Linked DNA regions of Homo sapiens: all the other regions are reported to be linked to region 1. Evidence: microRNA targets listed by miRTarBase, many of them from high-throughput screens and not tested one by one. Region 1 holds a microRNA gene; each other region holds the end of a gene's coding sequence.
The links. The annotated mature microRNA hsa-miR-1304-5p reads UUUGAGGCUACAGUGAGAUGUG and lies in region 1 at 1,452-1,473, shown strand. An mRNA with a match to its seed (bases 2 to 7 or 8) in the 3' UTR can be bound and repressed. Matches are read on the target gene's strand: a 7mer-m8 pairs with bases 2 to 8, a 7mer-A1 pairs with bases 2 to 7 and ends in A, and an 8mer does both.

Region 2: the mRNA of RRAS is a reported target of hsa-miR-1304-5p. Seed matches in the 3' UTR shown: 7mer-m8 at 759-765.
Region 3: the mRNA of OSBPL2 is a reported target of hsa-miR-1304-5p. Seed matches in the 3' UTR shown: 7mer-m8 at 3,141-3,147.
Region 4: the mRNA of RFC2 is a reported target of hsa-miR-1304-5p. The part of its 3' UTR that is shown has no 7-base or 8-base seed match.
Region 5: the mRNA of TMEM19 is a reported target of hsa-miR-1304-5p. Seed matches in the 3' UTR shown: 7mer-m8 at 1,825-1,831.
Region 6: the mRNA of ELF3 is a reported target of hsa-miR-1304-5p. Seed matches in the 3' UTR shown: 7mer-A1 at 1,190-1,196.

The regions. Positions count from the first base shown.
Region 1 is chr11:93,730,124-93,735,196 of GRCh38, reverse strand. MIR1304 (microRNA 1304) reads left to right here and starts at 1,433; the gene lies at 1,433-1,523. CEP295 (centrosomal protein 295) reads right to left here. Exons shown (of 30, transcript NM_033395.2): 29 at 5,049-5,073; 30 at 4,839-4,966. The coding sequence ends at 4,928. SNORA25 (small nucleolar RNA, H/ACA box 25) reads left to right here and starts at 4,551; the gene lies at 4,551-4,684. It overlaps SNORA32 (small nucleolar RNA, H/ACA box 32), which reads left to right and starts at 4,098; the gene lies at 4,098-4,218. It also overlaps SNORD6, SNORA1, SNORA8, SNORD5, SNORA18 and SNORA40, and 1 more gene.
Region 2 is chr19:49,631,177-49,636,249 of GRCh38, reverse strand. RRAS (RAS related) reads left to right here. Exons shown (of 6, transcript NM_006270.5): 5 at 398-516; 6 at 590-958. The coding sequence ends at 674. Among named protein-coding and RNA genes, the nearest start is that of RRAS, 6.4 kb to the left of the region's middle. RefSeq lists enhancers at 1-55, 3,175-3,674.
Region 3 is chr20:62,293,273-62,298,345 of GRCh38, reverse strand. It overlaps OSBPL2 (oxysterol binding protein like 2), which reads right to left. Exons shown (of 14, transcript NM_144498.4): 14 at 2,163-4,561. The coding sequence ends at 4,459. Among named protein-coding and RNA genes, the nearest start is that of ADRM1, 7.2 kb to the left of the region's middle.
Region 4 is chr7:74,227,977-74,233,049 of GRCh38, reverse strand. RFC2 (replication factor C subunit 2) reads left to right here. Exons shown (of 11, transcript NM_181471.3): 11 at 834-1,548. The coding sequence ends at 944. It overlaps LAT2 (linker for activation of T cells family member 2), which reads right to left. Exons shown (of 14, transcript NM_032464.3): 14 at 3,216-4,106. Among named protein-coding and RNA genes, the nearest start is that of LAT2, 21 kb to the right of the region's middle. RefSeq lists an enhancer at 3,406-3,685.
Region 5 is chr12:71,700,113-71,705,185 of GRCh38, forward strand. It overlaps TMEM19 (transmembrane protein 19), which reads left to right. Exons shown (of 6, transcript NM_018279.4): 6 at 720-4,935. The coding sequence ends at 883. Among named protein-coding and RNA genes, the nearest start is that of TMEM19, 17 kb to the left of the region's middle.
Region 6 is chr1:202,014,403-202,019,475 of GRCh38, forward strand. ELF3 (E74 like ETS transcription factor 3) reads left to right here. Exons shown (of 9, transcript NM_004433.5): 9 at 807-2,781. The coding sequence ends at 921. Among named protein-coding and RNA genes, the nearest start is that of ELF3, 6.4 kb to the left of the region's middle. RefSeq lists enhancers at 1-28, 3,531-4,299.

The sequences.
Region 1 (5,073 bases):
ACAGATAGGTGCAAAAAATAAATCCTCTTTTGCAACCCAGAACTCATTGTTCAGTATGAGTTTTGATACATATAAGAAGGGATATTATGATACCTGAGACAGTTGATTGATGGGAGTATTGATAGCCATAAAGGTTGGTTCCAGGCCAGGTGCAATGGGTCAAGCCTGCAATCCCCACACCAAGGTGGGAGTATTGCTTGAAACCAGGAGTTCAAGACCAGCCTAGGCAAGAAAGTAAGAAACACATCTCCACAAAAATTTAAAAATTAGCTGGGTACTGGGGCATGTGCCTGTAGTTGGAGTTACTCAGAAAGGGGGGAGGCTGAGGCAGAGTTGGAGGCTGCACTGAGCTTTGATGGCACCACTGTACTCCAGCCTGAGTAACAAAGACAGACCCTGTCTCTTAAGAAAAAAAGGTTGATTCCAGGCCTGTAGAATAGATAAACAGCATGGGATATGAGGGAAATCCTCAGCAGTATTAATTTTGCATTCCAATTTCATGTTGATGATATACACAATGGCTTTTTGTTTTAAAGGCTTTTATCTTGAGAACATGGTGTCTGGAGTTAAAGGTATGTCTCAATTTGAGTTTTCACATCATATTTGTTTATGTGTAGGAAACAGTATGTTGTCAGAGCAAGTTTCATTTTATTCAGGGACATTTCTACCATGCTTTTAATTCCCATTTATACTGATTTCTGAAAAGAAGAATCCTAGATTCACACATTTTATAGTGATGTGTCAGATTCATTTTAGTTGCAAGCATTAGAGGGTCCTGAATTTGTTAGTTTGTAGCAATAATCAGAACTTTGGATTTCCTACTTGAAGCCTACAGCATTATTTTGAATTAATGCACAATCTAAAATGAGGCAGAGGATTTTATGGTTTAATGCAAAATATAGTATAATAAAAGATGATTACACAGGTCATAAGAATTCATAAATTTGAATGATGTAGAGTTTGATTAAAAGTTATATAATGCCAAAGTCGTAACTTACAGGCACATTATATTCCTGTATTTTATAATGGATGACAATTAATTTTGAGCCAAGAATTAAAATTTGCTGAAATCTTCGAATTGGGAAAACAACATCCTCTGTTGCAATACTGAAGTTCATAACAACAGTTAGACTTTAAACTTAAATCTTAAGTTTAAATCTTTTTCCTTTGGTTCATGTAAAGGAGCTACTTGATGTTACTTTTTATTTATCATTCCTCTGGCTCCTAAGCACAACGTGATTGTGAAATTATTGTTTTTGTGATTAACGTAGTAGGAAGTTTCTGCAGTTGGCAATATTGTAAGAGCATATTGCAGTTTCTGCTCATAATTTCTTTCCTATGGAGTGTTAGACTTTGTTATTTATGTGTATAAATACTAGCTGGACACAGTGGTGCCTGTGGTCCCCAGCTACTCTGGAGGCTAAGGCAGGAGAAACACTTGAGCCCAGCGGTTTGAGGCTACAGTGAGATGTGATCCTGCCACATCTCACTGTAGCCTCGAACCCCTGGGCTCAAGTGATTCAGCAAGAATCACACGATTTTTAAAAGACATGGCAGATCCTGTGTCTTTAAAAAAAAATCAAAACCTTGTAAATAGTGGTTGAGGTCTATCCCGATGGGGCTTTTCCTGTAGCCTGCACATCGTTGGAAACGCCTCATAGAGTAACTCTGTGGTTTTACTTTACTCACAGGACTATTGTTAGATCTGTGGGAAGGAATTACAAGACAGTTGCTAAAAGTTTGAAAAAGACGGTTGCTAAACGTTATGAAAAACCAGATAATCTACTTTTTTACCTTAGGTATTGGCATACTCCACACATCTGTACCATTCTTGAGTGATCGCTTAGGTAAGTTTTAATTGGTGACAGTATAATCTTTTGGGAAATAATGATTACAGTTCAGATGATGAATTTAACTGTTCAACTGCTGAATGATAACGGGCATGAACTAAAACTTAATTCTGACAGAGCTGGATATGGCTGTATAATAAACTGGATCTTAAATTTATACTTGGGTTTTAGTTTTAATAACTGGAAATGTATCCTTTCTAAATCTTTAATTGGTACTTTCTATAGGAATGAATGTGATTTGAACTCATTCATGTTGAGAGGTAAGTAAAATATTTAACTTATAATAATCAAGGACTCAAAAGATGAAAAATAGAAATTACACCATCCCAGTATTTCAGGTATAACACAGAATTAGTAAGATACTGGCAAAAATATTACAATGTATATATTTGTATAGAGAAGGAAAATGAAGAGACTGCATGTCTATACCTACCAAACGAAACTACCTGTGTTCTTTGCATCATTATTCAACTGGCAGTTACACATATTTCATCCTAAAGTCACGTAAACCTGTGTGGATATGTTGAATCAATAGGGATATGAATTACATAAAAAGAATTTTGTGTAACTGGCAGTTTGAGCAACAATGAGCTTGACGTTTGTTGTCTGATCTGTTAAGTTACATGTATATATTCCATCTTTAAGTTTTATAGAGAGACTGGGCAAAGATTAGGCAAAGACTAGAGTTGTAGCTTAAAATGTAGTTAATGTAGCTTCCTTATTACAGTGACAATTAGGAAAAAAGCTCAAATTATTGTACTTGTTAAAGGAATTTGAGAGGTTTGTGAAAGCATTTCTCAGCAATATTGCAAATTTGGGAATACGAGTTGTACAGTTCAGTCATAATTGCACTGCATGGTATCTGCACTCAGCAGTTTACACCTGCTAGGGTGTTCAAAGGTCAGTGCTATAGAAATTCAGTATCTGGCATCGTTGGTTTTCTTGGCTTTGTGCTTGTTAAACCTGGTATTTCTACTGATACAGTATTTGTGTAGGTTTCTCAGAGTGTTCAGTTTGATATACTCTAAAATAGTAAGCAATGCTTTTTTTTCCAGGGTGTCAAATTGAGAACCAGGTAGATCCCCACCACCTACAGTAAAAAGGTAAGATTCTCTGTTTCTATTGATTCTGCTTGTTTCCCTCTATCAGTAGCACTGCCAGCATAACAAGAACTTCGTACAAATACACTACTAAGCTTTAAAGACTTTTACAATGCCTCATTCTAGAGAATGGGCACTGTTGATCATGGTGTCCAAAAATAGTTAATGTGGCTAAATTGAGACAGGTTATGCTTCCATCACAGTATGCATATTGCAGTGGTGACAATGAGACCTGTAACATTTTGCTATGTTTATGAGTAAAAATGTAGGAGAAAAATGTTGACTTTTCAATATTAGAAATAACATTTAATAAGGAATTTTCAGCTCTTATAGGACCACTTTTTTTATGTGCTGTATATTGACTGAAACATTGTAATGTGGTATACATTACTGTGTCTTGGATCAGGTGTCAAAATGTAACTGTACTTTGTACAATTCAACTTCTAGGACCCTAAAGTAAATTGGTTGAAGAAATTAGATCCCAAAGATTCTTGGTAAGTTAATTCATTACTTAAAAGGCCATGCAGGTTATTTTGTTGAATACTAGCTTTTCTCCAAATGTTATTTTAGGTTATTTATTTATCTAGCAATGCTATTGCAACATCTATCACCACTTAGGAGTAAAAAAAAGGACTAGGCTTACGTTATTATGTGTTTAAACTTCATTATTAACGATGTTATGATGATGGGCGAAATGTTCAACTGCTCTGAAGGGGCTGAATGAAAATGGCCTTTCTGAACATCCATTTACATTAAATATTGCATTGTATTTCAGAAGATTATAAAAGCTCAAAGGTAAAAGTTACCAGAAACATGATCATAGAGCAAATTCGGATATGAATGGGCATGGGATCATTGATTTTTAAAAATACCTATTAGTTTAAATAGCTATTTTAAGCATAGAATTTTCAATACCTTACTTGGGGTGCCGGGTTTCAGGATACTTTGGAACCTAAGCAACCTCATTCTTGAAAGATAGATTTATGTACTTAATAGTAAATATAAATTTGAAATACACATTTTTCCACAGGTGAATTTTGAAGTCTTCATCAGTATATCCATATTAAAACGAGATGACAGAAGCCAAAGTAATTATGGCAAGTAATGGTTTTTATCTTAACTATAAGTTATTTGCTCAAGGGTGTAATGGTCATTACCAAGGCTTTTAGAATGCAGTTTCTCATTTGCTGTGGACATGACCATAAAAAAATTTCCCAGTAGGTTTTCTATCTGCTACTTTGCTAGCAATCAGCTTATTGGGAACAGTTGATTAACTGTAATAGAAATGCAATACAAATAAAATGTGAACCACATGTGATTTTTCTTTAAAATCAGTGAGATTTGAAAATTCTCCTAGATCTCTTGAATCATGCAAATTTGCTTTGCCTTTATATTGTAACCCTTGTGGGTTGCTAATAACCAAGCAGTTTGTAGTAGAGTTAACTCAGGCTCGTTCTAGGGACTCATTCATGTTCACTCACTGTACACTCATCTCTGGAAATGTAAAATTTACTTTTATACTATTGTTATGTAGGGCTGACAGGACAACTGGATCAGTTTCATTAAAAAGGTATGTATGCATTAGAAAAGACATTTGTATGGGTCATTTCAAAGAGGGCTTATGAGGCTGTGAAACCCAGAGCTCTTAACGCTGTGACCAAAGATGGAAGTTCTCTATAGGAAGCCATAGCACTCCTAATGTTTGGTGCTATGTTTTCCTGAGGAGATATAAAACGTAATAATCCAGGATTGTTGCCATGTGAGAGTTTTAAAGGTTAATCAAAATTTCTCTTCTTCAGGGCAAACTTGAAGATAAATCTTTTGACTCCAGCTCTTTAGAGGATCTAAAGTGACCTTGATGGACAGTGGAAGAAATCACAACATGGAATTCCTCGAATAACAATTTATTGACTTTAAATAATTTTGTCTAATGCTACATATACACAATTAAAAAACCTTTACACTATTTCTAGAAAGTCAGCATGTATTTTTGGCTCGAAGTTTCTCTAGTGTTTTCTGTGGAAGGAATAAAAATTTGAGTTTCAGTTGTGTACTTCATGCTTGAAAAATTAAGTCCTTCTCCCTCAGTTATACTCACCTTATGGAATTCTTTTGCCCTTGCT
Region 2 (5,073 bases), not on the chromosome of region 1:
GATGCCCCGCACAGTTGCGCCCCTCCTTTCCCTGCTCCCATCACTTCCCCCACAACGATTTCCACACAGAACTCATCCATCTGGCAAAGGCTCTGGGGATTTCCAGGCTTTGGGGTTCCGCCTGCCTCTGCCGGGAACACCCTGACTTCCCTGCCTGCCCACTCCTGGTTATCTAAGGCATAGCAGGGCAAGTGCCCACGAAGCCTGCCCCCATCCCTTACTTAGAAGACACCAAGCCCCTGCGGCATCTCCCTCCATAATCTCTCAGGAGCTCTTCCTCTTTGAGTTCTCACAGTGGGTCACCTCTCCTAGAGTATCCAGCCTGCCTGTCTGTCTCTCTGGCTGCGGTCACCCTGAGTGCAGGGACCTGACTCCCCCGTGTCCCCCCTACCCCCAGGTCCCCCGATCAGAAGCCTCTGCCTTCGGCGCCTCCCACCACGTGGCCTACTTTGAGGCCTCGGCCAAACTGCGTCTCAACGTGGACGAGGCTTTTGAGCAGCTGGTGCGGGCTGTCCGGTGAGCCAAGTCCCCTTCCTGTCGTCCTTGTCCCCAGCCCTTCCACTCCAAACTCACTGGCGTTTTCCCACAGGAAATACCAGGAACAAGAGCTCCCACCGAGCCCTCCCAGTGCCCCCAGGAAGAAGGGCGGGGGCTGCCCCTGCGTCCTCCTGTAGCCCAGGCAAGAGAGAAGCAACCACCACAAGCTCTCGGGACTAGCTGCCTTCGCACCTTGCTGTGTGACCTGAGGCCCTCACTGAGCCTCAATTTCCTCATCTGGGTCTCCCAGGACACATCACATACCCACCCTTACTTCCTGGCCTCTTCTGGGCTACTGCCACTGTGTGCCTTCTGCCAACGCCTCCTGTCCCCACCTAAGCCTGGTGGGGGTGAGGGGCTCCGGGTCACTGCTGTATATAACTCCCCTCCCCCAGAAAAATAAATGTCACTGCCAACGTCAGGAGGTGCTTTCTAAAAAGGTAATGAGGGTCGGGCACTGTGGCTCACTCCTGTAATCGCAGCATTTTGGGAGGCCAATGCGGGAGGACCGCTTGAGTCCAGGAGTTTTTGACCAGCCTGGGCAGCATAGCGAGACCCCCATCTCTTAAAAAAAAAGGGTGGGGGAATGAACTCTGGGAAGGTGAACGAATTCAGGGCACACATGTTCTAAGGCCTCCCTCCACCTAGAACCCTCGCATCTAGAACCTATTGCTTGGGGAGGAGCAGAAGAAGTTTATAAAGCATAACCAAGTGCCTAGACCCCCCACTTTCCCTTCAACAGGGCGATTCTACCCTTTTCTGTTTGTGTGTGTGTGTGTGTGTGTGTTTTTCTGAGATGGAGTCTCACTCTGTAGCCAGGCTAGAGTGCAGTGGTGTGATCTCAGCTCACTGCAACCTCCGCCTCTTGGGTTCATGCCATTCTCCTGCCTCAGCCTCCCGAGTAGCTGGGACTACAGGCGCATGCCACCACGCCCCCAGCTAATTTATTTTTTGTATTTTTAGTAGAGGCGGGGTTTTACCATGTTAGCCAGGATGGTCTCAATCTCTTGACCTTATGGGTATTTTCTTGGGATAAACTTTGAACATCTGATGAAGGAATTTTTTTTCCTAGAAAGTTATAGAATGCGCTCTTCAATATGGTAGGCAGAAGCTACATGTGGCTATTTAAATTAAAATTAAATAAAATTTGGCTGGATGCAGTGGGTTATGCCTGTAATCCCAGCATTTTGGGAGGCTGAGGTGGGCAGATCGCTTAATCTCAGGAGTTCGAGACCAGCCTGGGCAATAAAGTGAGACCCCCCCCCGCCCCCATCTCTACCAAAAATACAAAAATTAGCTGGGTGTGGTGGCACATGCCTGTAGTCCCAGCTACTCAGGAGGCTGAGGTAGGAGGATCGCTTGAGCCTGGGAGACAGAAATTGCAGTGAGCCAAGGTGATGCCACTGTACTCCAGCCTGGGCGACAGCAAGACTGTCTCAAAAAATAAATAAATAAAAAATAAAAAAAATAAAAATAAAGGCCAGGCGCGATGGCTCACGCCTGTAATCCCAGCACTTTGGGAGGCCCACGCGGATGGATCACCTGAGGTCGGGAGTTCAAGACCAACCTGACCAACATGGTGAAACCCTGTCTCTATTAAAAATACGAAAATTAGCCGGGCGCATTGGTGGGCGCCTGTAATCCCAGCTTCTCAGGAGGCTGAGACATGAGAATAGCTTGAACCCGGGAGGTGGAGTTTGCAGAGAGCCGAGATTGTGCCATTGCACTCTAGCCTGTGCAACAGAGCGAGACTCCGTCTCAAATACAACAACAACAACAAAATAAAAAATATTTTAATAAAACTTAGTTCCTCAGTCAAATCAACATTTCAAGACCTCAGTTGTCACATGTGGCTAGTGACTTTTTTTTTTTTTAGACAAGAGTCTCGCTCTGTCACCCAGGCTGGAGTGCAGTGGCAGGATCTCCAGTTGCTGCAACCTCTGTTTCCTGGGCTCAAGTGATTCTCCTGCCTCAACCTCCTGAGTACCTGGGACTACAGGCGCATGCCACCATGCCCGGCTAATTTTTGTATTTTTGGTAGAGACGGGGTTTCGCCACGTTGGCCAGACTGGTCTGGAACTCCTGGCCTCAAGTGATCTGCCCACCTCGGCCTCCCAAAGGGCTGGGATTACAGGCGTGAGCCACCGCACCCAGCCTCTAGTGGCTATCTTAATAGATAGGGCAGATAGACAACATTCCTATCATTGCTGAGTGGGCTATTGGATAGTGCTTTCTAGAACATTCCAATAGAACGTTCTAGGACATTGGAGACAGGCAGCAACTCAGCTGGGTGTGGTAGCTCACGCTTGTAAGCCCAGTACTTTGGGAGACCGAAATGGGTGGATCACTTGAGGCCAGGAGTTTGAGACCAGCCTGGGCAAGAGCTAGACTCTGTCTACAAAAATAGAGACAGGGAGCAACTGCTACAAACCCTGCCTGTCCCACTCTCACCTTCAATGTATATCGAGAAGGGACAGGTGGGTGGAATGGTGTCCAAGCAGCCGTCTGGCAAGTCCTCATTTTCAGAAAGTTCCCAGTAGCACTGAAATCTGAATCTAAACACTTAATCCAATTTGGGGTCAGTGTGGACATCCCCCATCCAACCCCCTATTCTGTCCTGGGAGAAGCAGAAGTGTTGGGTGTCTTAAGGCCACAGTGGGTAAATGGATGACACACTTCAGTCTGGATACCCAAAGCCCATCTGTGTCCTAGGAACACTTCGTTTTTTACATTTTATTTATTTATTTGAGACAGGGTGTCACTGTGTTGCCCAGGCTGGAGTGCAGTCGCGTGATCACAACTCTGTAGCCTCAACCTCCTGGGCTCAAGCAATCCTCCTGCCTCAGCCTCCCAAGTAGCTGGGACTACGAGTGCACACTTGGCTAATTTTTCATTTTGTTGTAGAGATGGGGTCTCGCTATGTGGCCCAGGCTGGTCTTGAACTCCTCCCTTTAAGCAATCCTCCTGCCTCGGCCTCCCAAAGCTCTGGGATTTACAGGCATGATCCACCATGCCCAGCCTGGGGACACTTAGGACTCTCCCACATCCAACCTAAGCTCTGGTTGGGGGAGGAGCAGTCCTGCCCACTATTTGCTACCCTGGAAGGCTGAAGCCAACTGGAGACCACTGTCCACCCACCTCCCAAGCCTGTGTGACCGGCCATCTTTAAAGCCCCAAATCTACCCAACACACCAGGCTAAAAACCTCAACCGGCCGGGCGCGGTGGCTCATGCTTGTAATCCCAGCACTTTGGGAGGCTGAGGCGGGTGGATCACAAGGTCAGGAGATCGAGACCATCCTGGCTAACACAGTGAAACCCCGTCTCTACTAAAAATACAAAAAATTAGCTGGGCATGGTGGCAGGCGCCTATAGTCCCAGCTACTCAGGAGACTGAGGCAGAAGAATGGTGTGAACCCAGGAGGTGGAGTTGCAGTGAGCCGAGATTGCGCCACTGCACTCTAGCCTGGACGACAGAGCGAGAGTCCATCTCAAAAAAAACAAAAACAAAACAAAACACCTCAACCGAGATGTCCCGATGCCCTGAACTTGAGGCTCCACCTGAAACCTATCAGCAGTCAAACATCTGCTCCCTATACCCAGGCCCCTGATCCCTGAATGCTCTACTCGCACCCACCCTGGAACCTGCTTCCTAGTCCTAGGGTGGAGCATGGCCTTTGCGTGACCGGGATGCCTGAATTCAAATCCAGCTCTGCCACCTCAGTCTCATCTGTAAAATGGGGGTAAGTACAAAGCTACTTCACAGGGTGAGCACGAGACTAAAGGAGACGATTGCAGAGGAGGAATGAGCCCGGCGCATACTAAGTGCTCACCATCAATGACTGTGGCTGACATGTCTCCATTCTGCCCCAGAACCATGAATGTCCCTCTGTATCCCGGATTAGAACACGGATTAGCAGGCTGGGCGCAGTGGCTCACGCCTGTAATCCCAGCACTTTGGTAGGGCAAGGCGGGCGAATCACCTAAGGTCAGGAATTCGAGAGCAGCCTTGCCAACATGGTGAAACCCCCCTCTCTACTAAAACTACAAAAATTAGCCGGGTGTGGTGGCGGGCGCCTGTAATCCCAGCTACTTGGGAGGGTGAGGCATGAGAATCGCTTGAACTCGGGAGGCAGAGGTTGCAGTGAGCTGAGATCGTGCCGTTGCACTCCAGCCTGGGCAACAAGAGCGACACTCTGTCTCAAAAAAAAAAAAAAAAAAAAAAAAACTGATTAGCTAAATATCCCTTTCCGGGTTCTATTATCACAGAATCTTTGGCCTGTTCTCAACCTTCTGCCCTGGGAAAAAGTACAGCTCGGATGTACTGTCACATGTTGGCTCTCTTCCCTGCTAGGAACTCTGCACACCAGGGGTCCACCCCTGCTGGATGGGGAGTGGTGGGGCAAGAGGGTGGGCAATGTTTTGATCAGTTTCCAAACAAGCTCTGACACTTCCACCTAAGCCCCAGCTGCGGGTACTGAGCCCCCAACAGGAAGGAGTCCTGTGCCAACATCTCTCTTCCCAGATCTCACCATCCA
Region 3 (5,073 bases), not on the chromosome of region 1:
AGTTTGGCACTGACAGTTGTTAAATATTATAAAATAAGTGCGTTCTGCTGGCATCTTTTCTCAGCTGCCATGTCCTTGCTGCCTGCTGGGATGAATGGCACTGGAGGAGGAGCTGGGTGAAGGCACGGGGAGGGGTGAGGGCCTGCAAGGTGTGGGCGACAGGAAAGCCCGGCTGCACACCATCGCCCTCTGCAGAGCCACCGTCGTGCTCCTAAACATCTGGCCACGGCAGCCTGGCTCCCAAAGCTCACCAAGCGAAGGACCGACTGTGAAGTGAACTTCGTACCCAGAGCTGGCAAATGTGGCTTTCGCCTCACAGAAATTTTACATCAGCCTGTAGAAGACGGTGAGGAACCATCTTTTGAGGGGTCCGAGGGAGACCCAGCTCCCGTGCTGCCTGGCAAGCAGCAGGAGCCACCGCCACGTTCTCGGCCACGGCAGGGGCCCCGTCTTTTGTGTCCACTTTACACACAGGCAAGTCCAGATGTGGCCATCAAAGAAAACTGGGACCATCAGGACTTCCTGCAGATGGATCGAACTCTCCTCTGGGGTCCAGCTGCGCCCCTCGTCCACATCTGTGCTGGCTGGAGGGTCAGGGCTCCACTCTGCCCGACAAGCAGTCTGGTGCAGGGGACGCAAATGTCACACCCAGCAGGGCCCGGCACTTGGAGACCTGAACTCTGTCGCCCAGCTCAGTGGGAAGCTCACCAGAACTCGTAACTGTCTTTGCTTTGTTTTCCTTCACGGAAATGACAAGGACCTGTAAAACTTGTAAATCCCCATTTCTGCTGGGGAGAAATTTTCCCCAAAGAGCAGGATGCCTTGTGAGGAGGCCTCCAGGCGTTTCTCTTGTCCTGTTCTAACCTCCTGACCTTGTGTTCAGATGTGCCTGGCAAACCGGGGCAGGTCCTTGGTGTTCAAGGCCAATGCCCCAGATGGACAGCTCCATGCTCAGACACGTGGACAGTGGGGTGCCCGGAGGCCACCAGGGTGGCATGTGGCACTTCTCCAAGTGCCGGGCCCTGCTGGGTCTGACATTTGCGTCCCCTGCACCAGACTGCTTGTCGGGCAGAGTGGAGCCCTGACCCTCCAGCCAGCACAGATGTGAGCTCTGGGGATGGCGTCTGGAAGGGGTGGTGGTGACCGGGAGCACCTGCAGGCACCACTCTTCCTGTACCGGCTTTCCCACTTGCCGCCGGAGGCTGGGAAACTCACGGTACACACAGGCACCTCCCCACGACCAAGGCATCTGGGCCGCTGGCTCGCTCTCCTCCCAGACAGCAGTCTCGGGAGGGTCTGGCTTCAGGACAGCCTGCACCAGCAAAATGCCGGATGTCCATCAGGGCTGGGGACCAGGGCCAGCTGTCCCCCACTTCCCACAACCCAAGCCTCGCCCGGTGAGAAGGCTGCAGGTGTTGGTGACACCCGACCCTTCACCGTCCTTGGACACTAGGGCAGGGCAGACGTCGCCACGTGGCCAGCGACTCAGATCCACACCGTCATCCCAGGTGAGCCTGGTGAGCAGCAGCATGTGCTATGTTGCCAACACGTGCTTTGCATGTGGCTCTCCGTGCTTTGCATATGGCTCTCCGGGAGGCATGCCTGTTCACCGTTCTGTCTCCAGCAGCTCACAATACATACACCCTGAACCAATGACCATAGAACCGAATTCTCATTTCAATTAGCAATAGAATCCAACCAAGGTATTAGGTTCTGTTGGGGAATAAGCTTGCTAGGTTTTTCATTCTGTAAGGACATCCTACATGACAGGATTAATTTTTTAAAAGAACCAAGGGCCTGGCACAGTGGCTCACACCTGTAATCCCAGCACTTTGGGAGGCTGAGGCAGGAGGATTGCTTGAGCCCAGGAGTTCAAGACCAGCTTGGGCAACACAGTGAGATCCTGTCTCTACAAAATTGTTTTAAAAAAATAGCTGGGTTTGGTGGCATGTGCCTATGGTCCTAGCTACTTGGGAGGCTGAGGCTGGAGGACTGCTTGAGCCCAGGATGTCGAGGCTGCAGTGAGCTATGACTGCACCACTGCACTCGAGCCTGGGCAACTGACCCTATCTCTAAAAGTGAATAAAGCACCAAGACCCTTGGTCAAGGCCATACTCACACCCAAACGCGTGGCCCACGAGAAGGCCATCACTTTCCACACATTAAGTGGTGGCCATCTTTATTAGAGATGTTTAACATTCAATAGATATCCAAGGTGACAAAAGTTAGGTCATGGTTTATGTGTTAGCATTTGCAGAAACAGTAACAAAAAGTAGTAAAAAGTTAAAATAACCTCGACACACAGCCGCTTTTGCCATCAGCCTTCCTACCGTTCTTCCTCCACCTCTGGTTTGGTGTCTGTCCTCAAGGACAGCAGAAGAGGGGCTGTCTGTGCAGCCAACCAGCCCCTGAAATACCAGGAGCCTGGTCCTAGAAGAGGACTTGGAAACAAACCCGTGGGCAAATTATCTTAACCAGTAACAAGTGGAATGATCAGTAAGAACTCGTTAAACCTCCCTAAATGCAGTCACTTTCAATGTGTCTGAGTCTCACCTCTGGATGTTCTCAGCTTGCAACCTTTCTTGGAGAAGGAGCCGGTTCACAACCACAGTCTGGAAAAGCAGATGACCCTCCACCAGAGGCACCTGGGCTCCACATTCCAGCCATCGGGGAATTTCAAAGTCTCCTCTTTGAATAACGCCACAATCCTGAATCCTCAGACCCAGCTACCAGTCACGGAGCGGTTCTGTTCAGACACTTTTGAGTGGCTGGTACGGAGCTCATAGGCCCCGAGGATGACACAGGACTCGGCACCAAACACCATCGCTTCCAGCTTCCAAAGCTACAAAATCAAGCTTTCAAAACGAGTGTTCACTTCCAGAAGTGCTTCCGTCACAGGTGTGATGTGGACGCCAAGACACACGCAGGTGGCACCTGTCACTCAGAAGTGCCGGCCTGAGTAACCTGGACTCCATGCAACCGCGTGTCAGCGTGTGCATGAGTGTGTGCGTGCGTGCACACAACCGACGGTCTTTCAAAGTGCTCCACTGTGATCTCTCGTGTTGACAATTCTACATGAAAAAAAATCAGTCACGGCCAGGCGCAGTGGCTCACGCCTGTAATCCCAGCACTTTGGGAGGTTGAGGCAGGCAGACTACTTGAGGTCGGGAGTTTGAGACCAGCCTGACCAACATGGTGAAAACCCGTGTCTACTAAAAATACAAAATCAGCCAGGTGTGGTGGCGCGTGCCTGTAATCCCAGCTACTTGGGAGGCTGAGGCAGGAGAATCGCTTGAACCCGGGAGGCGGAGGTTGCGGTGAGCCGAGATCATGCCATTGCACTCCAGCCTGGGCAACAAGAGTGAAACTCCGTCTCAAAAAAAAAAAAAAAAGGAAAGAAAAGAAAAAAAAATCAGTCACTTGATAAAGGTGAATGCTGAGATGGACACATACCTATTTTTGGTTAAATAACTTTAATTACACCACTGTAAGTAGATTCTGCCTCTGACCCTCCCACAGGACACAACCGGATGTGATTCTTGTCACTTCTATTTTAAACATGCATACTGGGAAAAACAGAAACACAAGAGTGCTATGGGTACACGCGACGTGTGAGAAGAAAGGAACCCCCTGGAGACACGGACGCGGTGTGCGGTGACAGCCAGGCCTCACTGACAACAGGGCAGCGAATCGCAGCCGGGACGCCTCTGAGGCGGAAGCAGTCTTGGGATTTCCTGTCACGCTCTCGATGCTTCTGCCCACTCTGGTTTGTCACGGGGATGCTTCATTTTGGACAGTATAAAACCGGTGATTAATGCATATCTTGCTCTTCAGCAAAATACTATTCAAGTAGTTTTAACTTAAATATTTTAAAAGTAATCTTTACATTATTGAAGATTGTTAAAAAATACAGAATCTGACAACTTTTCACTCAATCTGATGCTCTGAAACTCTTCACTTCTGTTTTATCATAATTTAGAAGGCAATCCCTGGCCTCTATAAAACTCTCTGCAGGATTAGCTTCAAGATCCATCTTTCCCCCACTGGTTCGAGTTTAAAAGGCTTTCAGAACCTTTTGCCACTGCATTATAAAGAGAACATGAACCCCTTCCCATTACTTCCTTTAGCTACACATGCTATGACTGAGAGTGTGCTGGAAGCTAAACAAGCCCCAGCTGATTTCTGCCACATAAAAGGGCGCCGTGAAGAATTTCCCTGTTGAAACCTTAATGAAGACGATGATCCCAAGTGAAGCTTTATGAAGAGACGGCACAGCAGAGTGAAATGTTTGGCAATCAACAGTTAATTAGAATTACATCCTTGATCAGGGATGATGCTATCTCCGCGAACTCAGTCGTTAGAAAAGTTGGTTTCTGCTGTGACGAGGCTCACAGTGGCCACTCGAGGAAGTCCAGCCTCGTCAGCCTCCGGTCCCGGGCCCCAGGCCCCTCCAGGCCCTCAGTAGATATCTGGGCAGTCGGAGAAATTCCGCTCAAAGTAATCCCCTGCATACAACCAGTCGGGGGTCCCAGTGTAGGGGTTATTGCCTGGGTAGAACCACCTGCCGGATACAAGGGAGGGGGGTCAGAAGATGCTCAGCCCAAAAGGAAAACGCAGCCCTGTTCTGGGTGCAGGAGTGTGTTCCCCCAACTCAGCACCATCACGGTAACGTGGGTTTTAAAATGCAGCCCAGCGTAACAACTTCAACGGAGAATTATTGATCACGTGGTCATGTGAATGCTGGAACCTAAAGATATCCAGCCACCCGTGTCAATTTCACTTCCCAACAAAATCTTGAGGGTTTAACTCAACACAAAATCCTCACACTGGGCCCTTATCAGAGAAGTTACTGGAGCCTAAATAATGCCTCTCCCTTTTCAAGGCAAAAGCAGTTACACTGTTCACATGTGCTGTCATTTAAAGCAAACCAAGTATTGGTTTTTTTAACTGAGGACAAAGGAAGACATTATAGGCAAAGAGAAGGTAGCACAGGGCCTGAGTGTTGGCGCTGGTTCAGCCGCCGTCCACAGCCCCCGGCTGGCACTCAGGGCCCGAGGGGTGTCCTTAGTGTTG
Region 4 (5,073 bases), not on the chromosome of region 1:
TTTTTTCGTAGAGTTTGGGTGTTGCTATGTTGCCCAGGCCCAACTCTGGGCAAGTGATCCTCCTGCCTCAGCCTCCCAGAATGCTGGGATTACAGGTGTGAGCTACTGCTCCAGGTCTAAATCTACCCATTTTTTAATTGGGTTGTTTGATTTTTATTACTGAATTTATTTACTTATTTATTTTTGAGATGGAGTCTTGCTCTGTTGCCCAGGCTGGAGTGCAGTGGCACTATCTCAGCTCACTGCAACCTTCGCCTCCCAGGTTTAAGTGATTCTCCTGCCTCAGCCTCCCGAGTAGCTGGGATTACAGGCGTGCGCCACCATACCTGGCTAATTTTTGTATTTTTAGTAGAGATGGGGTTTTACCATGTTGGTCAGGCTGATCTCGAACTCCTGGGCTCGTGATCCACCTGCCTTGACCTCCCAAAGTACTGGGATTACAGGCATGAGCCACCACGCCTGGACTTTATTACTGAATTTTTGAGAATTCTTTATACAGTCTGGATGCAAGTTCTTTATCAGATATATAAATATTTTCCTCTAGCCTGGCTTTCCGTGCCACCACCCCGCCCCCCCTCGCCCCACCCATTTTCTTAACAGTTTCTTTGAAAGAACTATCAGCATCCTTTTAAGAAATAAATAGAACTTTAGGTAAACATAATCCATTGCATCTTAGCATTCATTTTCCGGCTGGGGTTGGAATTCCTCATGCTGATTTTGAAAAAACCATTAGTTCAGTTTGTTTCTGTTTTTATTTTTATTTTTTTCAGTTCAGATTTTAAAAAAGAACTCCCCCACTTATTAACCAGATTTGAATTTGGTTTGTTTTTCAGGAAATTGGATACACTCACATGAAAATAGCGGAAGGAGTGAACTCTCTTTTGCAGATGGCAGGCCTCCTGGCAAGGCTGTGTCAGAAGACAATGGCCCCGGTGGCCAGTTAGAGCAGAGACTTCACTGACTGACTTACAGGTGCCCTATTCTGAGGTACAGGAGCCGCGGCTTTCTGATGGGGGAAAATGCCGCCTTAGGCTGGAGCCAACATGACTGTCCTTTAAACTCCAGTGGCTGGCCAGGCACGGTAGCTCACGCCTGTAATCCCAACACTTTGGGAGGCCGAGGCAGGTGGATCACCTGAGGTCAGAAGTTCAAGACCAGCCTGGCCAACATGGGGAAACCCTGTCTTTACTAAAAATATAAAAATTAGCTGGGTGTGGTGGCGGGCACCTGTAATCCCAGCTACTCGGGAGGCTGTGGCAGGAGAATCGCTTGAACCCAGGAGGTGGAGGTTGCAGTGAGCCAAGATCACACCATTGCACTCCAGCCTGGGCGACAGAGTCTCCATCTGGGGAAAAAAATTAAATAAATAAACTCCCGTGACTTGCATGTTTGCTTCTGGGACGTCTGTGCCCCGCAAGTGTTTGAGTTTGGCCTCCACCCCATTGATGCGGTGACGGGGCGGAAAGGCGCAGAGAAGCTGAGGGCGGTCTCTGATCTGTGTGTGGGTTGACATTTTAGCTAATAAAGCCTTGCAGTGTTTGTTGGCAATAAGGTGACCATGTGAAGCCTCGAGAAAAACCAGCTTCCTGTCTCTACGGGCCTTGGCAGCCTACAAGTAGAAAAGGCGATTAGATAGTAGACCCACAAGCTCATCTCGGTTCTTCTAGAAGCCTGAAGGCGCCACTTCCCCAGGGCGAGGGCAGGGTTTGCTGTCTTTCCTATTTAGACTGATTTCTCAGAATGGCCAGGTGGCGAGCCTTTCAGAGAGGGCGGCAGAGTGGAGAGATGCAGCCCAGCCCTCAGGAAAACACCGTGATGCTCTTCCTGTGTTCTAGACCATACTCTTTGCGCTTGCTTTAGAATTCCCCAAAGAATTTCGTACTAATTTGTAGAATTGCCTTTTTTTTTTTTTTGGTAAGATACTATTTTTTTCCCTTTTTGTTTTGTTTTGATTTTTGAGATTGGGTCTCACTCTGTCGCCCAGGCTAGAGTGTAGTGGGCCAATCTTGGCTCACTGCAGCCTCAACCTCTTGGGCTCAAGTGATCCTCCTACCTCAGCCTCCTGAGTAGCTGGGACTACAGGCATGTACCACGATACCCAGCTAATTATTAAATTTTTTGTAGAAATGAGGTCTCACTATATTGCTGGGACTGGTCTCGAACTCCTGGCCTCAAGTGATCCTCCCACCTCAGCCTCCTAAGTGCTGGCATTACAGGTGTGAGCCACCATGCCTGGCCCATTTGGGCACGGTGGCTAAAATACGAAATACTAAAATACGAAATTAGCTGGGCATGGTGGCGCACGCCTGTAATCCCAGCTACTCAGGAGGCTGAGGCAGGAGAATTGCTTGAACCCAGGAGGTGGAGATTGTAGTGAGGCAAGATGGTGCCATTGCACTCCAGCCTGGGCGACAGAGCGAGACTCTTACAAAAAAAGGAAGAGAAACTTGTCCCTGAGGTTGTACAGTCAGGACTTCAGGATGTGAAGTAACAGGTGGGCGGCAGTTGGGTTCTAGATGTTTCTTCTGATTTCCTAACTTGTCGCATTAATTTCTTCTCATGGGAAGAGTCCCTGGGCCATCCCAGAAAGACGGCTGGACTTGGGAACTAAGATCCCATCCGCAGCCCTGATGCTCTCAGGGTCCCTTTTTATTAAACAAGAGCTGTGGCCGCCATTCCCTTAAGGCTTTTTGTGTTTGGTTATGTTTTTTGAGACAAGGTCTCCCTCTTTCGTCCAGGCTGGAGTGCAGTGGTGCGATCTCGGCTCACTGCAAGCTCCGCCTCCCGGGTTCACGCCATTCTCCTGCCTCAGCCTCCCAAGTAGCTGGGACTACAGGTGCCCGCCACCATGCCCGGCTAATTTTTTTGTATTTTTATTAGAGACGGGTTTCACTGTGTTAGTCAGGATGGTCTCGATCTCCTGACCTCGTGATCCACCCACCTCAGCCTCCCAAAGTGCTGGGATTACAGGCGTGAGCCACTGTGCCTGGCCGTGTTTTGTTATGTTTTTTGAGACAAGGTCTCCCTCTTGCCCAGGCTGGAGTGCAGTGATGCAATCATAGTTCACTGCAACCTTCTGGGTTCAAGTGATTTTCCTGCCTCAGCCTCCCAAGTAGTTGAGACTACAGGCATGCACCACCAGGCCCGGCTAATTTTTATATTTTTATAAAAGGTTTTTTACCTGAAGCAGGAGAAAGGAGACACAGGATAATCACTGCTTTTCAACTAAAATGGTTTTATTGAGATGTTTTGGTTGGAGGAGATACTTTTTCTGGCAACATTTCTGACTCAAGGTCCCTCTGGGCCCCAGCTCTTCCCATGAGACAGTCACAACACTGTTTAATCAGCTCTGCAGAGGCCAGCCCTGGAGCAGAGGAGGATTCAGGGCCATGGAGGGGACCTACTCTGCCCTGTTCTGGTCACTACTTCTCTAGACTCTCATGCACTATTGTCTGTAGCAAGTGACATTTCCACTGGAAGCACATAAAGATGGCGACAGCCTCATTTCTTCCTGAGTGAACTGAAGCCCAAAGAAAGGGGAGGTCCCACCAAAGGGGAAGAGAGCCAGGGCCCCACCCAACAAGGATGCTGAAATAAACTACATGTAATGCTTTCTAGGAGACAACACAGAAATCTCTACTCTGAAATCCAGAATGTTAAATATGGCTCCCCCTCTATAAGTTAACTGTACAAGCTTATCAATCATTTAAAACCCCAGCAACCAACAATAGCAATTAGGAATCCAAATTCATAGCACAAAAGAACACAGATACCAGTGTTGGACAGTGGTTTTGTTATGGGGACTGGGTGACAGCTTATCCTAAATCCTGCGCATCCGTCCATACCAGGAGCCGGGTTACCCTTGGTACCAGGTGCCTGCCCCACAAAGCCTGGGTCGGGAGAGGGCTTGGTGACGGGCCTGCAGCTCCCGTGAGTAACTGTCTTTTCCCAGGCTGTGCACGCATGGCCAGGTGGTCCTCAGGGTGGCTGGTTCTCCTTCCAGGAGCAACCATGGCAGGGGCTTAAAAGTTGAGTAGCTCTGGGAAATGGTCCTTGGAAGGCAGCGATGGGTCCATGAGCACAGTGGTCCCTCTTTGCCTTGGCTCCTTAAATGAAGAGGAAAGTTTGTAGAAGGAGGTTTGCCTTGATCAGTATTTTGTTCCTGAGAACCATAACCACTGGTTTGGGGACACCATTGAGCCTGCCTCCTGGCTGAGAACAGAAGCCGCACATCAATAACTGGGTTTCTTTTTTTTTTTTTGAGATGGAGTCTCACTCTGTCACCCAGGCTGGAGTGCGGTGGCGCGATCTCGGCTCACTGCAAGCTCCGCCTCTCAGGTTCACGCCATTCTCCTGCCTCAGCCTCCCAAGTAGCTGGGACTACGCCACCACGCCCAGCTAATTTTTTTTTTTTTTTTTTGTATTTTTAGTAGAGACAGGGTTTCACCATGTTAGCCAGGATGGTCTCGATCTCCTGACCTCGTGATCCGCCCACCTCGGCTTCCCAAAGTGCTGGGATTACAGGCGTGAGCCACCACGCCTGGCCCATTTTGTTTGTTTGTTTTTGTGTTTTTGAGACAGAGTCTTGCTCTGTCTCCCAGGCTGGAGTGCAGTGGCGTGATCTCGGCTCACTGCAAGCTCTGCCTCCCGGGTTCACGCCATTCTCTTGCCTCAGCCTCCCAAGTAGCTGGGACTACAGGCGCCTGCCACCATGCCCGGCTAATTTTTTGTATTTTTAGTAGAGACGGGGTTTCACTGTGTTAGCCAGGATGGTCTCGATCTCCTGACCTTGTGATCCGCCCGCCTCAGCCTCCCAAAGTGCTGGGATTACAGGCGTGAGCCACCGCGCCTGGCTTTTTTTTTTTTTTTTTTTTTTTTTTTTTTAAGACGTAGTTGCCCAGGCTGGAGTGCAATGGTGCGATCTTAGCTCACTGCAACCTCCTCCTTCCAGGTTCAAGTGATTCTCGTGCCTCAGCCTCCCGAGTAGCTGGGATTACAGGCACACGCCACCACACCTGGCTAATTTTTGTATTTTTAGTAGAGATGGGGTTTCCCCATGTTGCCCAGGATGGT
Region 5 (5,073 bases), not on the chromosome of region 1:
ATCAGTCAGAATATTTGTTCTCCATTTTGTTAGTCTCATTTAGATTTTAAGGACGAAGCAATCTGATCTTAATTCTCACTAAAGGGTCAATAACTCTACACGCACACACAGACAGTAAACATGTTTTTTAAAGAGTGTAGGTTTTATTCTAAATTGGGTTCTAACTGGGGAAGTTTCTGATTGCATTGAGTGGGTTGAAAAGAAATGCATGCAGTAGGGGAGATTTTGTAAATCTTTGTGTGCCTCCTTTGTGCCAGCCCCATGCTCAACCCTGCGTTTACAGTACTGTGGCCACAGACATGATCCCTACTCCCAAGGACGTCATAGATCAGTCTTGGAGGGGAACCACTGGGAAGGCAGGCCCAACCTGCCAGTTTCATGCCCTCTCTGCTTTTCATGTTCTCTCTTCCACTTCTGAAGCAATTCCAGAGGTATTGACAGAAAATTACTGAGAACCCATTTATTCAAAGAGGCCATTTGTAATCAAGGGTCCCATGTCTCTCATCATATAAATGATCCATTAAAGTCATTTAGCAAGTCACTTAGAACCTTTCAAAGATTGTCTCCTTTGGAGGAAAAAGCCTATTTTGTTCTTTTTTTAAAATCAAGTACATGTACCCTAGAACTTAAAGTATAATAAAAAAAAAAAAAAAGAAAGAAAAGAAAAAAAATGAAGTCATTTGGGTTTTCTATCTCACTTGCTTCTTTTTCCATTCCAGGGTTGGATGAAAGCACTGGCATGGTGGTCAACAGCCCAACAAATAAGGCAAGGCACATAGCAGGGAAACCCATTCTTGATAACAACGCAGTGAATCTGTTTTCTTCTGTTCTTATTGCCCTCTTGCTCCCAACTGCTGCTTGGGGTTTTTGGCCCAGGGGGTGAACTTTATTTCATTTCCACAGGTTGAAACTGGTGAGTCCAGCTAAATTTGCAATTCCAACTTTCATCCTAAGAATAATAACTGTAATGGCAAAGCGGAAATGCCAGTTCCTCCTGTATTCCATTGAGATGGGATTTCACATTTTCCTCTCATCAACTCCCCTGTAATAGCTAGCGTCTTTCTAGTGAAAGAGAAGAATTCCTAGAACTTATGCATTTTTTTCCTGCTGAATGGAAGTCTTGAGCAATGAAGCTATATTGTCCCTACATATTACTATATATTGAACTGAAAGTTCTTACATAATCAATGTCAAGTTTTGTCTTATTTTGTTTTGTTTGTTTAAACCAGTGTAGGAAATAAAAGTGATGATATTTAAAATAGTTCTCAGTTGAAGCAGAGAAATGCCACTGTGCTAGTTGCCCAAATGTTGTATCTATTTTAAATAGTTTAAGCTGATGTGTATGGGAGCCTAAACAAGTGTAGTATCCTGAACTTCTCCCATTAATTGCTATTCACAATTGGGAAAAGTGTGGAGATTGGTTCCTAGTGAGTTTTGTGGCCTACTCCACATTTGTTCTTCCTTCCTCAGGGTTAGTGATGAAAAAAAGTAAATATCTTTTTCATATGTCCATTAGAATGTATGAAAAAAATCATTTTAACTAAAAGCAAAAGAATTTTATCTTATATCTAAAAAATATATAACTTACTATATGTTTCAGTTGCTCTCTGAACAAAAATTATCTTCAATTTAATATGTGGAATGTGTTTTCTAGCTTTCTTTGAATTATGTATGGCAACCTGGTTTAGCACTGGCATCCTGAACAGTTAAGAGTCACTGGGAAATTATTGTATTTCTTTATAAATTTACTGTCATATCAATTGCTGGAAAATGCTATGATTTTTCTATTATTACCTTCTAAGTTGTATTCTCTCTTACACTGTAGCCTCAACTAAGGCAATTCTGCTATGTTTGTTCTTCACTATGATTTACTGTGTGCCAAAGGAGTTTTGACAGGGTACAGAGTATTTTACTAAAAGTATTTTTAAATGTTTCTCATGTGATTTCTGTACCTTCTTCCTCCTGCCCCTTTTGCTTTTTTAAAGAAACTGGGGAAGGATTTATGAATACACCACCACCAGAGTGGATAATGCTTAGAATTCTTTATTGGTGGCCCTACTATGGTGATGATCTAGAACTGACTTACTTCAGGACAGAAGAAAAAACAATCACACCCTTAACCTTTAAGCCAGTTAGATCAGGGGGTTGCAACAATTGGGTTAAACTTTGGGTATACATTGGAAGCACCAGGGCATGTTTGCTTTTTTTGTTTATGTGTTTGTTTTTTGAGACAGAGTCTCACACTGTGGCCCAGGCTGGACTCCAGCACAGTGGCATGATCTCAGCTCCGCCTCCTGGGTTCACGTGATTCTCATGCCTCAGCCTCCCAAGTAGCTGGGATCACAGGCGTGCACCATCACGCCCGGCTAATTTTTGTATTTTCAGTAGAGACAGGGTTTCGCCACGTTGGCTAGGCTGGTCTCGAACTCCTGACCTCAAGTGATCTGCCCATCTCAGCCTCCCAAAGATCTATTACAAGATGTGAGCCACTGTGCCCAGCCACCAGGGCATGTTTTTAAAAAAGTACTGATGTCTGGGTTTCACACTGCAAAATTCTGATTTATCTGATCTAAGGTACAGCCTGGATATTGAGACTTTTTAAAGCTCTGACTGTACATTGAATCATCATGTAAGGAGTTTTTAAAACATTGTTGCCAGGGCCCCTTTCTAGACCAAGTTAGTCAGAATGTTGGACAATGAGGCCCATGCATGGGTATTTTTACAAAGCTCTCTGGGAGATTCTAATGCTTAACCAAATTGAGAAGCACTGAATAAGAATATCCTGGGCCGGGCGCACTGGCTCATGCCTGTAATCCCAGCATTTTGGAAGGCCGAGGCGGGTGGATCACTTGAGGTCAGGAGTTCGAGACCAGCCTGGCCAACATGGTGAAACACCGTCTCTACTAAAAATACAAAAAATTAGGTGTGGTGGTGCGTGCCTGTATTCCCAGCCACTCAGGAGGCTGAGGCAGGAGAATCGCTGGAACCTGGGATGTGGAGGTTGCAGTGAGCCAAGATTGCACCACTGTACTCCAGCCTGGGCAACAGAGGGAGACTCCATCTAGACTCCATCTCAAAAAAAAAAAAAAAAAAAAAAAAAAAAAAAAAAAAAAAGAATATTCTAAGCACTAGAACTACATAAGAATGTCCTAAAGCACTGTATCTAAGCACTTGAAAAGAATGGGACTTTTCGGTTTTAGGGAGATAACTATTAGCAACCACACAATATGTTATCTTTATGGATGAATAACTTCTGGTAATGACACAGTGTCTTACAGCTACATCATTTATAAAATCATGTGTCAGTTTTCACACAGCCTGCACATCGTTCTGACATGCCCTTTTTTTCCCTGGAGATTTATCCTCATGACATACAAGGGGACAAAAATATTTATTGGGACTGTCTTTGAATTTAGTAGAATCACTGTATCATTAACAGTTTGGGGAAGTACTGCTTTGCAGTCCTTTATTTGAAAACTTAGGTCTAGCTGTGTTTTGCATCAAAATTTTTGAGCTATTCAAAAACTAATAGGATCTGTGTAAAATATTTCACTCAAAACTACTAAAAAAAAGTCTGGGATGGCAGCTCATTATCAAATATACTCCTATTTTTGTGGTGATTTATGAACATCCCCACTAAGTATAACTAAAGATCATAAAGAGCCTCAGATCAAGTTTGGTCAGGTTTTGTCACCAAGCTTTGTAAATAAACTGGTTTTCATAGCTTTTTGGAGATGAGAATTGAGGATAAGAAATTGTGTCTCTGTCCTTTTTTTTTTTTTTTGTTAAGTCTTACATGTATTTTACTGTAACATCTTTTGAATTGGATATTTAACTAATTCAACATATTTTTCCTCTTTGCAGAATGGGCAGTTCATGTTAAAATCACTTTTCATGGAAAGAGCTCTATGTAACAGCATAATAAAACTGCCTACCTAGCAGCATAAAGGTGTACTGTTTCTTATCATACTGTTCCATGATAGAAGAGAGCAGATATATGTGGCTTGGGGCAGCTCCTGAAGAAGACTTGCAGGAGTAGCATGTTGAAAACTCATTAAATGGAGCCACCAAGAGACCAAAGAATTGATACAGCAGGTCATTCTATTATTAGCTTTTCTCATTACTTGAGTTATCTGTTTCTCACATATATCTTTCCTGTTTCTAGCTGCTGTACACATAGGATGCTGCCTGCAGAAATAGCAGCCCCGCCCCAATTAGATAAAGGACTAGTATAGAGAAAAAGCATGTGAAATGATGTTTTAAACTTTGCCGCATACCTGTGATATGAACAGCTGCTGCCTGTTAGGCACAGTGGGTATACTAGGGCCCAATCATCTGATCTTCCTGAAGTTTTATGTAATGTTCCCAGTGCTATCACAATGAGAATGATCTATACTAGCCACCAGATCTCAGGTGAATTGTGGTGTGCTTTAAAAATGAAAACACAGCCGGACGAGGTGGCTTATGCCTGTAATCCTAACACTTTGGGAGGCCGAGGCGGGCAGATCACGAGGTCAGGAGTTCAAGACCAGCCCGGCCAACACAGTGAAACCCCATCTCTTAGCCGGGCATGGTGGCGCATGCCTGTAGTCCCAGCTATTCAGGAGGCTGAGGCGTGAGAATCACTTGAACCCAGGAGGCAGAGGTTTCAGTAAGCAGAGAGCGTGCCACCGCACTCCAGCCTGGGTGACAGAGCAAGACTCCATCTTGAAAAAAAAAGGAAAACACAATTATGTGGCTTAATTATTTAATCTCCTTTATGGAGTATCTGTTTTTATAACTCCAAGTGGTTCTTGATATTTTAAAAATACTTAAGCATTCAATATGTATTCATTGAATTAAGTTGTTTGACTCTAATCATTGTTTCTTTTAAGAATGACTGGAAGGTGATAATCAGCACCATATTCCTGGAGGAAAATACAAAATGAAAAACCAGTTTGGCTACCTGAATTTCTGAGAACTGGAATGTTTCCAGCATTTTTCAATCATGCAAAACAATATTAATGCTTTTGAAACTAATGAGCCAGGAAATTATTGAAGAAGTGAAGGAGTGGCAGGGCGAGGCTTGAAATT
Region 6 (5,073 bases), not on the chromosome of region 1:
CACTAGATCATCTTAAGATCCCGTCCAGCCCTAAAATCATGTACTTACTTTTTTTTTCTTTTTCTTTTTTAAATAGAGGCAAGGGTCTCTACGTTGGCCAGGCCGGTCTCAAACTCCTGGCCTCAAATGACTCTCCTGCCTCGGCCTCTCAAAGTGCTGGGATTACAGGTGTGAGCCAGTATGCTTGGCCTTTTCTTTTTTCTTCTTCTTCTTTTTATTTTTCGAGACAGGGTCTCGCTCTGTCACCCAGGCTAGAGTGCAGTGGCACAATCTTGGCTCGCTACAACCTCTGCCTGCCGGGTTCAAGTGATTCTTGTGCCTCAGCCTCCAAGTAGCTGGGATTACAGGCACCTGCCACCATGCCCAGCTAATTTTTGTATTTTTAGTAGAGACGGGGGTTTCACCATGTTGGCTAGGCTGGTCTCGAACTCCTGACCTCAAGTGATCCGCCCGCCTCAGCCTCCCAAAGTGCTGGAATTACAGGTGTGAGCCACCGTGCCCAGCTCCCTGGCCTTAAAAGTCATGTAATTTAATGATCAGACCCCAGTCACAGCCATAGGATACAAAGAAGCAAAGGCAAAGAGCCCTGTGTCCTGGGCACGGTTACAGGCCAGTGTAGGGAAAGAGCTTCTGCTTGCCAGTGTGAAGAACAGAGGAGTTTAGGAAGTGTGAGTCAGGCTCAGCTTAGTCAGGCAGAGACCAGTGGGCATGGGTTACCTGGGGGTAACGCGGGCCAGGTGGGCGGGCTGGCAGCCTGGGGCCCATTTCCTGCCAAAGCACCTCTGACCATCCTTCTCTTCACCCAGGTACTACTACAAACGGGAGATCCTGGAACGGGTGGATGGCCGGCGACTCGTCTACAAGTTTGGCAAAAACTCAAGCGGCTGGAAGGAGGAAGAGGTTCTCCAGAGTCGGAACTGAGGGTTGGAACTATACCCGGGACCAAACTCACGGACCACTCGAGGCCTGCAAACCTTCCTGGGAGGACAGGCAGGCCAGATGGCCCCTCCACTGGGGAATGCTCCCAGCTGTGCTGTGGAGAGAAGCTGATGTTTTGGTGTATTGTCAGCCATCGTCCTGGGACTCGGAGACTATGGCCTCGCCTCCCCACCCTCCTCTTGGAATTACAAGCCCTGGGGTTTGAAGCTGACTTTATAGCTGCAAGTGTATCTCCTTTTATCTGGTGCCTCCTCAAACCCAGTCTCAGACACTAAATGCAGACAACACCTTCCTCCTGCAGACACCTGGACTGAGCCAAGGAGGCCTGGGGAGGCCCTAGGGGAGCACCGTGATGGAGAGGACAGAGCAGGGGCTCCAGCACCTTCTTTCTGGACTGGCGTTCACCTCCCTGCTCAGTGCTTGGGCTCCACGGGCAGGGGTCAGAGCACTCCCTAATTTATGTGCTATATAAATATGTCAGATGTACATAGAGATCTATTTTTTCTAAAACATTCCCCTCCCCACTCCTCTCCCACAGAGTGCTGGACTGTTCCAGGCCCTCCAGTGGGCTGATGCTGGGACCCTTAGGATGGGGCTCCCAGCTCCTTTCTCCTGTGAATGGAGGCAGAGACCTCCAATAAAGTGCCTTCTGGGCTTTTTCTAACCTTTGTCTTAGCTACCTGTGTACTGAAATTTGGGCCTTTGGATCGAATATGGTCAAGAGGTTGGAGGGGAGGAAAATGAAGGTCTACCAGGCTGAGGGTGAGGGCAAAGGCTGACGAAGAGGGGAGTTACAGATTTCCTGTAGCAGGTGTGGGCTTACAGACACATGGACTGGGCTGGGAGGCGAGCAAAGGAAGCAGCTGAGACTGTTGGAGAACGCTTACAAGACTTCATGCAAGCAAGGACATGAACTCAGAACACTGAGGTCAGAAGCATCCTGCTGTCATGACACCGCTCGAGTGACCTTGACCTTGACCAAGTCTGTCCTGTTTAGGACTGATTTTTCCTATTAGGCTAGGGTTTGGACCTGATGTTCTCAAGATGTCTAGAATTGCATGGCTGGCCTTGTGGAATAGATGGTTTTGCATTCCAGCCAAGTGTGCTGTAAACTGTATATCTGTAATATGAATCCCAGCTTTTGAGTCTGACAAAATCAGAGTTAGGATCTTGTAAAGGAAAAAAAAAAAAAAACAAAACAAAATGGAGATGAGTACTTGCTGAGAAAGAATGAGGGAAGGAGTTGGCATTTGTTGAAAGTGTAGTCTTTTTCTCTTTTTTTTTTAATTGCAACTTTTACTTTAGATTTAGGAGGTCGTGCGCAGGTTTGTTACATGGGTATATTGTGTGATGCTGAGCTTGGGATGCGAATGATCCTGTCACCCAGGTAGTGAGTATAGCACCCAGTGAAACTGTAGTCTCATGCCAGGCACTGTGCTAGCCCACTCTGGCTCATTTAATCCTCTCCTAAGAAGAGAGGAGACACAGCGTCCCCATTTGACAGATGCAGAAAGAGGTTCCACAGGTGTGCCTTGATTCTGTCCTAAAACCGTTTCCCGGAAGCTTTTCCTGGTGTGGGCGCTTCTAACCTAATCCTCAATCGATTCCAGAACTATTACTCTGTTTCCACAGTGATACTGTGTCTAGGTTTTAGGGAGGACAGTTCATTGATGTTACTTAAGAATGCTTTCCAGGTGGAAAGTTCCTTAAGTTTGAGGCTTCAAATTCCATACAGCACATTAAAATCCCATTCATGAGTTTGAAATACTGCTCTGTTGTCTTGGAAATACCAATCAGATTGTTGGCTGAAGTGATGTGGATAAAGAAGGGATCTTAGAAAAACTAAAGCTTGTGTGTGGATTTCTGGAAATGCAGCTTGCTCTGGAGAAGCAAGGAATGGTGGAAAAGGAGAGTGGGGAAGTTGATTGGAGAGGAAAGTGAGGTCATGAGAGAAACCAGAATCCTGGAGCCATTTGGAAAAAGGCTTTTACTTACATTTCCCTTCTGAAGTGTGAGCCAGTTAGACAAAGGGGATGCGGGCCAGGGCGTAGGTCTAGCCTCAGAAGCTGGGGAAGCTTTCACAGCTACTTAGTCTAAAAATGACCCCATTTCTTGGAAATTATGCATTAGACTCTGGTCTAGTTTCCCTAGCCACAATATCTCGGGGTCCTTGCACCCTTAAAAGAGGTGACCCAGCTGGGCGCGGTAGTTCACGCCTGTAATCCTCGTACTTTGGGAAGCCAAGGCGGGAGGATCACGAGGTCAGAAGATCGAGGCCATCATGGCCAACACGGTGAAACCCCGTCTCTACTAAACATACAAAAATTAGCTGGGCATGCTGGCACGCGCCTGTAGTCCGAGCTACTCAGGAGGCTGAGGCAGGAGAATCACTTGAACCCAGGAGGCGGAGGTTGCAGTGAGCTAAGATCATGCCACTGCACTCCAGCCTGGTGACACAGGGAGACTCTGTCTCAAAAAAAAGAAGAGAGGTGACCCAGTGTGGCCTGAAGTCACCTAGCCAAGAAGTGGGGGAGGGGCCTCTAGAGCCCGGGACATGCTTGTTCAGCCTCCCTTGACTCCCAGCCTCTTCAGCTTCTAAAGGAGATCCTAGCAGGGAGGAGGGCTGGGAATATGGCGCTCAGCCCCTTCACCCTCTTCTGGAGGGCTGGGGGCAGGTGCTGCCCGCTGCGTGCTGACCTTTGCCCTGCCATTTGCAGTTTATGAGGCGCTTTCCTCATCCCATTATCTCATTTGATCCGCCCCACAGCTCGCTGAGGAGACCAGGTGTCCCCATTTTACTGACAAGGCTAGTGGTGGGCTGAAGTCACTGACTGGGTGAGAGCGGGGCCAGCTCACAGCATGCCTGCCTCCACGCTGCAGCTCAGTGAGACCACCTGGGCAGGTGGCCTCTGCAGGGCAGCGCCTGGGACAGCCTGGAAGACGGCAGCTCTGGGAGGGACGCCTTTCTCCCCAACAGTTCTCTGCCCTCTCACCCCTCAGGATGCTGCAGAGTCCTGGCACGGGCCCCTGGGCTGGCCTCCGTGCTGCCCTCTCTGTCGGGCACCAGTCACCCTTACCCCGACTCTCACCAGCCCAGGGGCCTCCTAGCAGGAGACGGCCCGGTCTCTCGCCCACCAGAGTCTGCATCCCCTCAGGTGTGTCCTGGGCTGGGGAGTGGGGGTGGGGAGGAAGCCACAGGGCCGGGCTGTTTATATCCCGCCCTGCCGGAGCTGCTGGTCACCTCTTATCTGCTTCTGTGGGATTGGGTGTGTCGCTGAGCAGGTCAGAGGGAGGTCACCCCTCCCGTCGTGTTTGGGTGTGCCTGAGGAGGGGCTGGGGTTGGCCCCCTGGGACAGTTCCTGGCTTATCCCACAGCCCCACCTGTCCCACCAATTCTGGGGAAGTCTGGCTTCTCCTGGGGGAAGTGGGTGAAGGGGTTGCATTTCTGAGGAGTCTGGTTTCAATCTGCTCTCTCTCTCTGCTGTTGTCTGTTTACACATCTCTCTCTCTCGCCGGGCTGTGAGCACCTCTGGGCAAGTGCTGGGGCTTACTCACCTCAGCACCTTGCACAGCGCCTGGCACAGAGGAGGTGCTCGATAAATATTTGCTAAATGGCCCCGTGACTCTCCCTGCCCTGGCCACTACCTCCCCCACACACCACACACATTCATACACACTCATGGGAACCAAAGTCACACACACTCACACTCACAAAGATAAATATTCACAAGCCCTCACTCACATGCCCCTGCACGCACTGCAGACGCTGCCTGCTCTCACACACTCGCATGGACCGTATTCACAACCTCACACACTTGCACACACCAGCGCACGCAACACACTCCCACCTCACAGTCTCACATAGCCACACCCAGGCCTGCCTGCACGACTCACCTCCTCCCTCGGGGTCCTTCTATGAAGCATTTCCTGACCTCCTCTTTGGCCCTTTTCCCCCACCAGATGGGTTCAGCCCTTGCCTCCAGTCAGGACAGGCCTGGTAATTTGCAGAGCCCAGTGCAAAGTGAAAGCCTGGGCCCTTGTTAAAGAATTATTAGGCTGGGCGCAGTGGCTCATGCCAGTAATCCCACACTTTGGGAGGCCGAGGCGGGTGGATCGCCTGAGGTCAGGAGTTTG